3 linked regions of the Homo sapiens genome follow. The protein of the gene in region 3 purifies or fractionates together with the protein of the main gene of each other region. This does not show direct contact. Each region holds a gene or a part of one and is shown on either strand. Other genes may lie near its edges.

Region 1 (3,655 bases), on a different chromosome or scaffold from region 3:
CTCCTAAAGTGCTTGGCCTCCCAAAGTGCTGGGATTACAGGCGTGAACCACTGTGCCCAGCCAAAAAAAAATCTTGACTTAATGGTATCAGATGTTTATTATGCATATTAACCTGTGATAGGTACTGTGGCATATATGGGAACAGTTGAATTCTTTTATACCATACTAAGTTATTGTCAGGTAAGAAAGGGACATGATTAGAAAATTAGAATTACACTAATGTGTATTCCTCTTAACTTCTAACTCTTAGAATTGAACACTAGTGCTCCACTCGATGTCTTGTCCAAACGATATCCCAGCAGACTTGTCCAAAAGATATCCACATATGAGCAGGACACTGCTTTCCGTGAGGAATTTGGTGTTGTATCATACGTGAGACTCATGGATATTAAAGTTCTTGTAATGTGTAGCATTTTTAACTCATAGAATAGTACCTTGTACTTCAGGGTTTTGTTTGCATTATTGGAACAATCAGAAGTTTTGGTTATATAAGGGAAAATAACCAAAACGGAGAATTTTTGCAAGGTAATGAATTTGAAATTTTTCTAAATTTCTGCCCCTTCACATATTAGTTTAAAAACTATCCATGTATGAAAGACTCCATTAATGATTAGGTACTGTTACAATTGTTGTAGATGAAATATGGATCTATTATAGCTGGTTCTGTTATGCTTTCCTTTGCTTCCTTTACTTCAGCCTTGGCAGCCTCCTTGATCTTCCTCATACACACTAAGCACTCTCCCTCCTCAGGTCTTTGGATTTACTGTTGCATAGGTCTGTAGTAGTACTGTTTGCTTACTTGCCTTGCTCACTTTCTCATTCGAACATCATCTAAACAGAGAGACCTTCCATGACCATCCTATATAAAATATTACTACCACTTCCTATTATCACTAAATATCATTATTATGCTTTTGTATTCATTTTAGGACATATCACTCTTAGCATCTTTTTTTTGTGTGTGTGTGTGTGATGTGTGTTCAGTGCCTCTCATTAGAGCAAAGATGGTTTTGTTTTGTCCATTGCTACATTCCCATTGCCTAGAGTATAGTACCTGGAAAATAGTACGTACTCTACAAATATTTGAATGAATGAATGAATGAATGAATGAATGAATGTTTAATCCAGCACTCATTCAGTTGGTAGAAGATATAAAATTAAACTGTAACTTAAAAATGGAGTATACAATTTTTTTTTTTTTGAGACGGAGTTTTGCTCTGTTGCCCAGGCTGGAGCGCAGTGGCACATCTCGGCTCACTGCAACCTCCCCTTCCCGGGTTCATACAATTCTCCTGCCTCAGCCTCCTGAGTAGCTGAGATTACAGGTGTGCGCCACCATGCCCAGGTAATTTTTTTTGTATTTTTAGTAGAGATGGGGTTTCACCATGTTGGCCAGGCTGGTCTCAAACTCCTGACCTCAAATGATCCACATCCCTCAGCTTCCCAAAGTGCTGGGATTACATGCGTGAGCCACCGCACCCAGCTTGGACTATATACAATTTATAGTTTTTTTTTTATCAGAATAATTGTATTTATAGTAGTTGAGTATCTACTATGTGCCAAGCCTTGGGTGTGATAGCAGTGAACAAGACAGACAAAGTTCTTGCGGTCATAGAACTAACAGTTTTGTTTTCTGCAGTAGAGAAACTAGTTTAACTTTTTACAGTTACTTATGCACAGATTTTTTTTTTTTTTTTTTTTTTGAGACAGAGTCTCGTTCTGTCACCCAGGCTGGAGTGCAGAGACATGATCTTGTCTCACTGCAACCTCTGCCTCCTGGGTTCAGGTGATTCTCTTGCCTCAGCCACCAGAATAGCTGGGACTACAGGCATGTGCTGCCACGCCTGGCTCATTTTTTTTTTTTTTTTTTGTATTTTCAGTAGAGACGGGGTTTTGCCATGTTGGCCAGGCTGGTCTTGAACTCATGAGCTCAAGTGATCTACCTGCTGCAGTCTCCCAAAGTGCTGGGATTACAGGCATGTGCAACCATGCCTGGCCATTTATGCTCAGATTTCTTTAAACAAACAAAAAGCAAATCACGAGCCCCCCCGCACCTTCATTTGATTCAACTATCCTTTCCAGCTGCGATCTTAGTTTTTTATGTGTTTTATGTTAAGTTTTTCAAATAATGGTCTTCAGCAATTGGCTTCATTTTCTTACTAAGCATTAGTATTCCTTACAGCTTTTTCTTCCATAATTTAGCTAAAATATTGCTCTCTCAGTTATCACAGGTTTTTCTTTTGCCATATTCAAAGGTCTGTTCTTAGTTTTCTCTGTTTCTTGCAACTTCTTTCAGGAGGTAATGTATGCAGTCCTAACTCACCTCTTTTCTAACTATTTCTTCTTTGTTTTCCTTGATTAAAAAAAGAAAAGAGAAGGTATTTTAGGAGGAAATACTTGATCGTATAGTATAGGTTATGTTCATTATGGAAATTGAATAGAGAATTAAAGGAAAAGAAAGTGAAAGGAAGAAAGAAAATGAAGAAAGAAGAGCCTAAAAACACAGAGAAAAGTGAAAGTGGAGAAAGAGGAAAGCAGTTAAATAGCAGTAAGGGATAGCAAAGCCCTAGAAATAGCAGTGATGATTTAACATTTGCCTGTATTGAAAAGCAGAGTAGAATAGTGGTTAGTATAGATCTCTCTTTGTCTTGTCTTTGTCAGTTACTGTGACCTTGAGCAAACTTTTTAACATTTTGTGCCTTATTTATTCATCTACAAAATGAGTTTCATTATAACATCCATCCCATACTGTTTTTGTGATAATGTATGAAGCACAAGCTGGGTACATAACATATGATGTGTGGGCCACTATGATTATCATTAGCTCCCTATCATTCCTAAAGTAGCTATTCATTCTCCACAATTACTTTAGGAGAAGCTATTCTTTTTCATGTATTTATATATCACCTTCATAACTTATTTGTTGAAAAAGCAGATAATTATTGGCATGCCTACCTATGTGCCAGCTGACTACACTTAGTACTGAGGATTGAAAAATAAACTGAAAAGACATTTTCTGTCTTTAAGAAGATAAACACTGAGGAGAGAGAGATGAGAGCAAACTGCTGCACTAAAATGCAATAAGTTTATTGGTAGAAAATGTACAAAGTATTGTAGAGGAATGAGGGACTGCTTTGTAGAATGAGATTATATAAAGAAGACTGCAGTTGAGAGGTTAAGCATGAATAGGCATTTGCTTTCCTTACATGAATCAGGCAGAGGAAATGGCCATTTTACATATACAAAAGTATGAGAGAGCCAGTAGTGTTCAAGAAATTATAAGCAGCTTTCTATCATTTGGTATATAAAATGTTATCAGATACTGGTGGTCAATGGGATTGGACAGTGATAGACAGTGGGCTAGGTCACAGCAGGCTTTGTGTGCTATACCATGGAGATTAGATTTTATCCTCTTTGCAAATAGGAGCCATTGAAAACTTTAGCTCAGAAGAATGATGTAAGATTTGCTTATCAGAATGAGTATTGTGAGAACTGTATAAGTGGTAGGGTAGCCATATGAGGATGGTGAAACTTTAAGAACAGAGACCAGCGAGGAGGCGATTACAGTAATCCAGGTAAAAGATGAAGAAGGAAAGAGTCTGGTAGTGGCAGTGAAGACAGATGAGGAAAGATGTTGTTGGATATTAAGAATTAG
Region 2 (3,655 bases), on a different chromosome or scaffold from region 3:
AGAATCATGGCCATTTCGCAACTACCCAAAAACATCTACAAATGGTGTTGATCCTACAGTCAATCTAAGACCAAAAAACTCTCCACCCCCGCATCAGCAGGAAGTAGCTAGAAAGAACATGTCCCCTCTTGTCCTTTTATAACCATAGGGTCTGGAATGATAGAGCAGGAGTACTGTCATCTCAGACAAACACCGCCACTTTAAATTCCAGCTCCCTTTCTAGCCTCATGCATTTCAAGGAAATCACTTCTCTTCTAACTACAAGCAGCCAGAAAGAGCAGACAGTAAAACACGGATAAGACAGCTGGGACACAAAGGGAGGTGGGGGGAAAGTATCTTGGGTAACTGCCAAACTTCACCCTCATACGATGGGCCCCAGTAAAACAGTGGGCCTTAATAATAAGGAACAAGCACATTCCCTTTCCTTCAGGGGCACTAAGACAGGAAAGCTAAAAGCAGACTCTTGGCTGGGCGCGGTGGCTCATGCCTGTAATCCCAGCACTTTGGGAGGCCGAGGCGGGCGGATCACGAGGTAAGGAGATCAAGACCATCCTGGCTAACACGGTGAAACCCCGTCTCTACTAAAACTACAAAAAATTAGCCAGGCGTGGTGGCGCATGCCTGTAGTCCCATCTACTCAGGAGGCTGAGGCAGGAAAATCGCTTGAACCTGGGAAGCAGAGGTTGCAGTGAGCCGAGATGGCGCCACTGCACTCCGGCCTAGCGACAGAGCGAGACTCTGTCTCAATAAATAAGTAAAAACAGACTCAGGGACTATACCTGCAGCTGCAGGAAAAATGTATGAAAACAGGCACACAACTCTCCCTCCCAGATAAGCACAACAAAGAGACACAGAAGCAGTCCAAGCCTCTGATAAACTCTCCCATCCTGAATCCTTAAAAACTCAGTCTGTAAGAGAGTGTGCCTCTGACCTAACTTGGCCAGAAGGCTCCTTTCAGGTTGATTTTCTCTAAAATAAATGTCTTAACTGGCAAGCCAGCTTTTGTATTTCTTTCCTCTTTCTTTAATTCTTACAGTTCTCACAGTAAGGATTGGAGAAAAATCCCCTTCTGGTTTTGGCAGGAGGCAAGGAAAGCAGTCATTTTTTTCTCAACATATCTACCCTCATAGAAACTATTATACCAGAGCCTAAGTGAATGGACACCCAGGGCCTAACTAACCTAAGTGATGAGGAAAAACCCAAATCCAGCCCCTCTAGCCTTTCTCATCACCTAAAAGGGGTAGGACTGAGAAACACTTGTGAAGGTCACAGCCCAGGGGTGCAGGCTCACTGAAACACTAAGACCTAATTGTAGGACTGTAAAACACTTCCCCCCACCAAAACACCTTGCTACTACATCCACAGGGCTCCAGTATAGTAACAAGGGGATTACGGATAAGAGAACTGCAAGCCAGAGCCTATTTAAGGAGTTTCTACAAAAACCCAAAGACAACAGGGTAGACAAAAACAAGAAGATGAAGAGAGAAAATTATATCCTCTGATACCCACAGCTATAGCAAATAGTAAACACATTCTAACTCCTAGACAGGTAAATATCAAACCTCACACTAAAAGCCTATCTACCTCAGTACCTTTTACCCAATACATTATATCTGATTTTCTGCAAAACAATTACAAGATATATAAAAGACAAAAACACAGTTTGCAAAGATGAAACAAGCACCTAAACCACAATCAGATATGGAAGCAATGTTGGAATTTTCAGATGGAAAATTTAAAACAATGATAATTAAAATGCTAAGAGCTCTAATGGAAAAATGTGGAGAACATATAAGAACAAATTGGTCATGTAAGCAGAGAGATGGAAATTAAGAAAAAAATCAAAAAAAGTCTAGAAATAAAAACCCTGTGATAAATGCAAAGAATGTCTTTAATAGGTTTATCAATAGACTGGATACAGTTGAGGAAATAATCAATGAGATGGATGAAATATCAACAAACACTTCCCAAACTGAAATGCAAAGGGAAATATAGAATAAAAAAGACAAAACAGAATATCCAAGAATGGTGGGACAATTGCCATAGGTGTAAATCCTTGTAATAGGGATATCAGATGGAATAAAAAGAAAGAAAGGAATAGTAAAAATGTTTGAAGTGATAATGACTGATAATTTTCCAAAATTAAAGACAGATACCAAACCAAGATCCAAGCAGCTCAGAGGAAACCAAATAGGATAAAGATCACCCCCCACCCCCCAAAAAATCTATACTTAGGCATATCATATTCAAACTGCAAAAAATAAAAGACACAGAGATAATCTTCAGTGAAGCCAGGGAGAGGCAGGGCAGGACACCTTACCTATAGAGGGAGAGAGATGAGGATTACATCAAACGTCTCTTCATAAACCATGCAATCAGGAATAGAATAGAAAGAATTATTTAAAGAACTGAAAACATTCCATCAACTTAGAACTAACTAGATTCCATCTGTATGCAGTAAAATTGTCCTTCAAAAGTGGAGGAGAAAGACTTCTCAAACAAAAATTGAAGGAATTTGTCACCAGTAAACTGCCTTACAAGATATGTTAAAAGAAGTAATTCAGAAAAAAAGGAAAATTAAACAAGTCAGAAACTCAACATACAAAAGAGTATTAGAAATAAATGTGAAATAATTTTTTTTCTTATTCTTAATCTGAGAGATAACAATTTGTTCAAAATAATAATTGCAACAATGTATTCAGTGATTGTAGCTTATGGATAAGTGAAATGAATGATAGCAGTAATAATAAGGCATGGGAGGGAGGAATCAAGAATACTCTGCAATAAGGCCCTTACACTACCCATAAAGTTGTATAGTGTTATTCAAAAGCAGACTTAAATTAGATTTAAGTGTATATTGCAAACTGTAGGTCAACCACTAAAAAAGCAACAACAAAAAAGTAAAACTGATATGCTAAGAGAGAAAAGAAAATGGAATCATATAAAATGCTCAGTTAAGATCAGAAAAGGCAGAAAAAAGTGTGGAAGAAAAAAGAAACAAAGGGCAAATAGAAAACAGTAATAAATATGGTAAATATTAATCCAACTATATCAAAAAATCACTTCAAATATCAATGGTGTAAATATACCAATTAAAACATGTGACTATCTAGAGTGAATAAAGAATCGTGACCTAACTATATGTTGTCTACAACAAACCCATTTCAACATAAAAACCAGATAGGTTACAAATAAAGGGATGGAGAAAGATATACCGTGCTACCACTAATCAAAAGAAATATGGAGTAGTTCTATTAACTTCAGATAAAGCAGACTTCAGAGAAAGGAAAATTATTAGGAATAAAGAGAAGCACTACATAATGGTAAAGGAGTCAATTATCCCAGCAGACATAATACTCCTTAATATGTATGTGCCTAACAACAGTGCTAAAATGTGTAAAGCAAAAACTGACAGAATTTTAAGGAGAAATAGATGAATCCACTATTATTACAGTTGGAGACATCAACACCTCTCTGTCAGTCCCCACTAACGTTTTTTTTGGGGGGGCGGAGTTTCACTCTTGTTGCCCAGGCTGGAGTGCAGTGGCACGATCTCGGCTCACTGCAACCTCCGCCTCCCGGGTTCAAGCAATTCCCCTGCCTCAGCCGCCCGAGTAGCTAGGATTACAGGCATGCACCACCACGTCCGGCTAAT
Region 3 (3,655 bases):
CTGGGATTACAGGCATGAGCCCCCTGTGCCCCAGCCAGTTATGATTTTGTTTTGGCATATATTCATGGGGGTACAAGTGCAGTTTTGCTACATTGATATATTGTATTGGGGTGAAGTCAGGGCCTTCAGTGCATCCATCACTGGCACAAGACACATTGTACCCAGCAAGCAACCTCCTGTAGTCCATCCCCTTCCCTCTACATCCCCAACCCTCCAAGTCTCCATTGCCCATCACTCCACACTCTGCTTCCATATGTACGCATTATTTACCACCAACTTATAAGGGAGAACAGGCAATATTTGTTTTTCTGTGCCTGAGTGATTTCACTTAAGATAATGGCCCCCAGTTCTATCCATGTTGCTGCAAAAGACATAATTTCATTCTTTTTTATGGCTGAATAGTATTCCATTTTGTATATATGCCATATTTTGTTTATTTAGTGCTCCATTGATGGGCACTTAGGTTGATTTCATATCTTTGCTTTTATGAATAGTGCCGTGATAAACATATGAGTGCAGGTGTCTTTTTGATGTAATGATTTCTTTTCCTTTGGGTAGATGCACAGTAGTGGGATTGCTGCATCTTCCGGTAGTTCTATTTTTAGTTCTGTGAGAAATCTCCATACTGTTTTCCATAGAAGGTGCACTGATTTACATTCCCACCAACAGTGTATAAGAAGAGTTCCCTTTTCTCAGCTTCCTCACCAACATCCTGTGATTTTTTTTGTCTTTTTAATAGCCATTCTGTTGTGTGTAAGATGATATCTCATTGTGGTTTTTAATTTGTATTTCTCTGATGATTGGTGATGTTGAACATTTTTTAAAAATTTTACTCATGGCAGTACACAGAAATTTTCAGGGAAGATTAAAAGGCATGAAAACATGACTCTTAATAGACAATTCTAGCAATATACAAACTATTTTTGTTTCCCTAGAGTCTTGAATTTTTTGTTCAACTCATTTTCTGGTTATGAATTTAAAATGATTACAGCATACTGCCAATGTTTGAGAAGAAATCTGTTATTGGATTAAGTTTAGGAATCAGGCTGGGCGTGGTGGCTTATGCCTGTAATCCTACCACTTTGGGAGGCTGAAGTGGGTGGATCACCTGAGGTCAGGAGTGAGCCGAGATTGCCCATTGTACTCCAGCCTGGGCGACAACAGCAAAACTCTGGCTCAAAAATAAATAAATAAATAAATAAATAAATAAATAAATAAATAAATAAATAAATCCAGGATTCATAATATTAATTAATTTATTTAATTTTGTGACAAAGTCTTGTTCTGTCACCCAGGCTGGAGTTCGATGGCAAGATCTCAGCTCACTGCAACCTCCACCTCCTGGGTTCAAGGATTGTTCTGCATCAGCCTCCACAGTAGCTGGGACTACAGGTGTGTGCCACCACGCCTGGCTAATTTTTGTATTTTTAGCAGAGACGGGGGTTTCACCATGTTGGCCAGGCTTGTCTCAAACTCCGGACCTCAGCTGATCCACTCACCTCAGCCTTCCAAAGTGCTGGGATTACAGGCGTGAGCCACTGTGCCCGGCTGATGGTGAACATTTTTGATATGCTTGTTTGTCTTTTGAAAAATGCCTACTCATGTCCTTAGCCCATTTGTTAATGGGATTATTTGTTTTTTGTTGTTGAGTTGTTTGAGTTGCTTACAAATTCTGGATATTAGTCCCCTGTTGGATATGTAGTTTGCAGATATTTTCTTCCATTCCTCAGGTTATCCGTTCACTCTGTTGATCATTTCTTTTGCTATGCAGAAGCTTTTTAGTTTAATGAAGTTCCATTTGCCTATTTTTGTTTTTGTTGCCCGTGCTTTTGAGGTCTCAGTCATGAATTCTTTGCCTAGATCAATGTCTAGAAGAGTTTCCCCTAGGTTTTCTTCAGTATTTTTAGAGTTTCATCCTTACATTCAAGTCTTTAATCCATCTTGAATTTATTTTTTTCTTTCTTTTTTTTTTAAGATGGAGTTTCGCTTTTGTTGTCCAGGCTGGAGTGCAATGGCGCGATCTCGGCTCACTGCAGCCTCCGCCTCCTGGGTTCAAGCGATTCTCCTACCTTATCCTCCCAAGTAGCTGGGATTACAGGCATGCGCCACCATGCCCCGCGAATTTTTTGTGTGTTTAGTAGAGACAGGGTTTCTCCATGTTGGTCAGGCTGGCCTCAAACTCTCGACCTCAGTTGATCCGCCCGCCTAGGCCTCCCAAAGTGCTGGGATTATAGGTGTGAGCCACCGTGTCTGGCCAAATTGATTTTTTTATATGGTGAGATACAGGGATCCAGTTTCATTCTTCTGCATATGGCAATCCAATTTTCCCAGCACCTTTTACTGAAAAGGGTATCCTTTCCCCAGTAAATGTTGTCGACTTTGTCAAAAATCAGTTGGCTTTAAGCATGTGGGTTTATTTCTGGGTTATGTATGCTGTTCCATGGATCTATGTGTCTATTTATTTATTTATTGAGGTAGAGTCTTGCTCTGTTGCCCAGGCTGGAGTGCAGTTGTGCAATCTCAGTTCATTGCAACCTCCGCCCCCCGGGTTCAAGCGATTGTCCTGCCTCAGACTCCTGAGTAGCTAGGATTACAGGCGCACGCCACCACACCTGGCTAATTTTTGTATTTTTAGTAGAGACGGAGTTTCACCATGTTGGTAAAGCTGGTCTTGAACTCCTGACCTCATGATCCGCCTGTCTTGGCCTCCCAAAGTGCTGGGATTACAGGCATGAGGCACCGCACCTGGCCCTATGTGTCTGTTTTTATAGACACTATGAGTATTATGCTGTTTTGGCTACTATAGCCTTGTAGTATATTTTGAAGTCAGAAAATGTGATAACACCAGCTTTGTTCTTTTTACTTGGGATATTTTTGGCTATTCGGGCTCATTTTTAGTTCCATATGAACTTTAGAATTGTTTTTTCTAATTCTGTGAAAAAATGATGTTGATAGAAATTGCATTGAACCTGCAGATTGCTTTGGGCACAATGGTCATTTTAACCACATTAATTCTTTCAGCCTACGTGCATGGGGTGTTTTTCCATTTTTTTGTTTCATCTATAGTTTCTTTCATCAGTGTTTTGTAGTTTTCCTTGTAGATTTCTTTCACCTTCTTGGTTAAATATATTCCTAGGTGTTTTATTTTTTTGTAGCTATCATAAATGGGACTGCCTTCTTGGTTTCGTCCTCGGGTAGAACATTATTGGTGAACAGAAATCCTAGTGATTTCTTTTCCTTTTTTTTTTTTGAGACAGTCTTGCTCTACTACCCATGCTGGAGTACAATGGTGCAATGTAGGCTCACTGCAAAGGCCTCCCAAAGTGCTGGGATTACAGGCATGAGCCACTGTGCCCATCTGATTTATAAATTTTTGACAGATTATGCATGAGAGTGTGCTTCTTGGGCCAGGCGCGGTGGCTCATGGTTGTACTCCCAGCACTTTGGGAGGCTGAGGCAGATGGATCACAAGGTTAGGAGTTCGAGACCAGCCTGGCCAACATAGTGAAACCCCGTCTCTAGTAAAAATACAAAAAAATAGTCAGGCGTGGTGGTGGGCACCTGTAATCCCAGCTACTTGGGAGGCTGAGGCAGGAGAATTGCTTGAACCCAGGAGTGGGAGGCTGCAGTGAGCTGAGATTGTGCCATTGCACTC

What was found.
Region 1: the proteins of SUGCT (region 3) and MRPL1 purify together in Homo sapiens (affinity purification with mass spectrometry; one large-scale study listed by BioGRID and IntAct). This does not show direct contact.
Region 2: the proteins of SUGCT (region 3) and ALDH1L1 purify together in Homo sapiens (co-immunoprecipitation; one large-scale study listed by IntAct). This does not show direct contact.

The regions. Positions count from the first base shown.
Region 1 is NC_000004.12:77,897,309-77,900,963, forward strand, and holds part of MRPL1 (large ribosomal subunit protein uL1m precursor), read left to right. Parts: intron 1-3,655.
Region 2 is NC_000003.12:126,170,552-126,174,206, forward strand, and holds part of ALDH1L1 (cytosolic 10-formyltetrahydrofolate dehydrogenase), read right to left. Parts: intron 1-3,655. UniProt on the Homo sapiens protein: Cytosolic 10-formyltetrahydrofolate dehydrogenase that catalyzes the NADP(+)-dependent conversion of 10-formyltetrahydrofolate to tetrahydrofolate and carbon dioxide.
Region 3 is NC_000007.14:40,137,948-40,141,602, forward strand, and holds part of SUGCT (succinyl-CoA:glutarate CoA-transferase), read left to right. Parts: intron 1-3,655. UniProt on the Homo sapiens protein: Coenzyme A (CoA) transferase that reversibly catalyzes the transfer of a CoA moiety from a dicarboxyl-CoA to a dicarboxylate in a metabolite recycling process.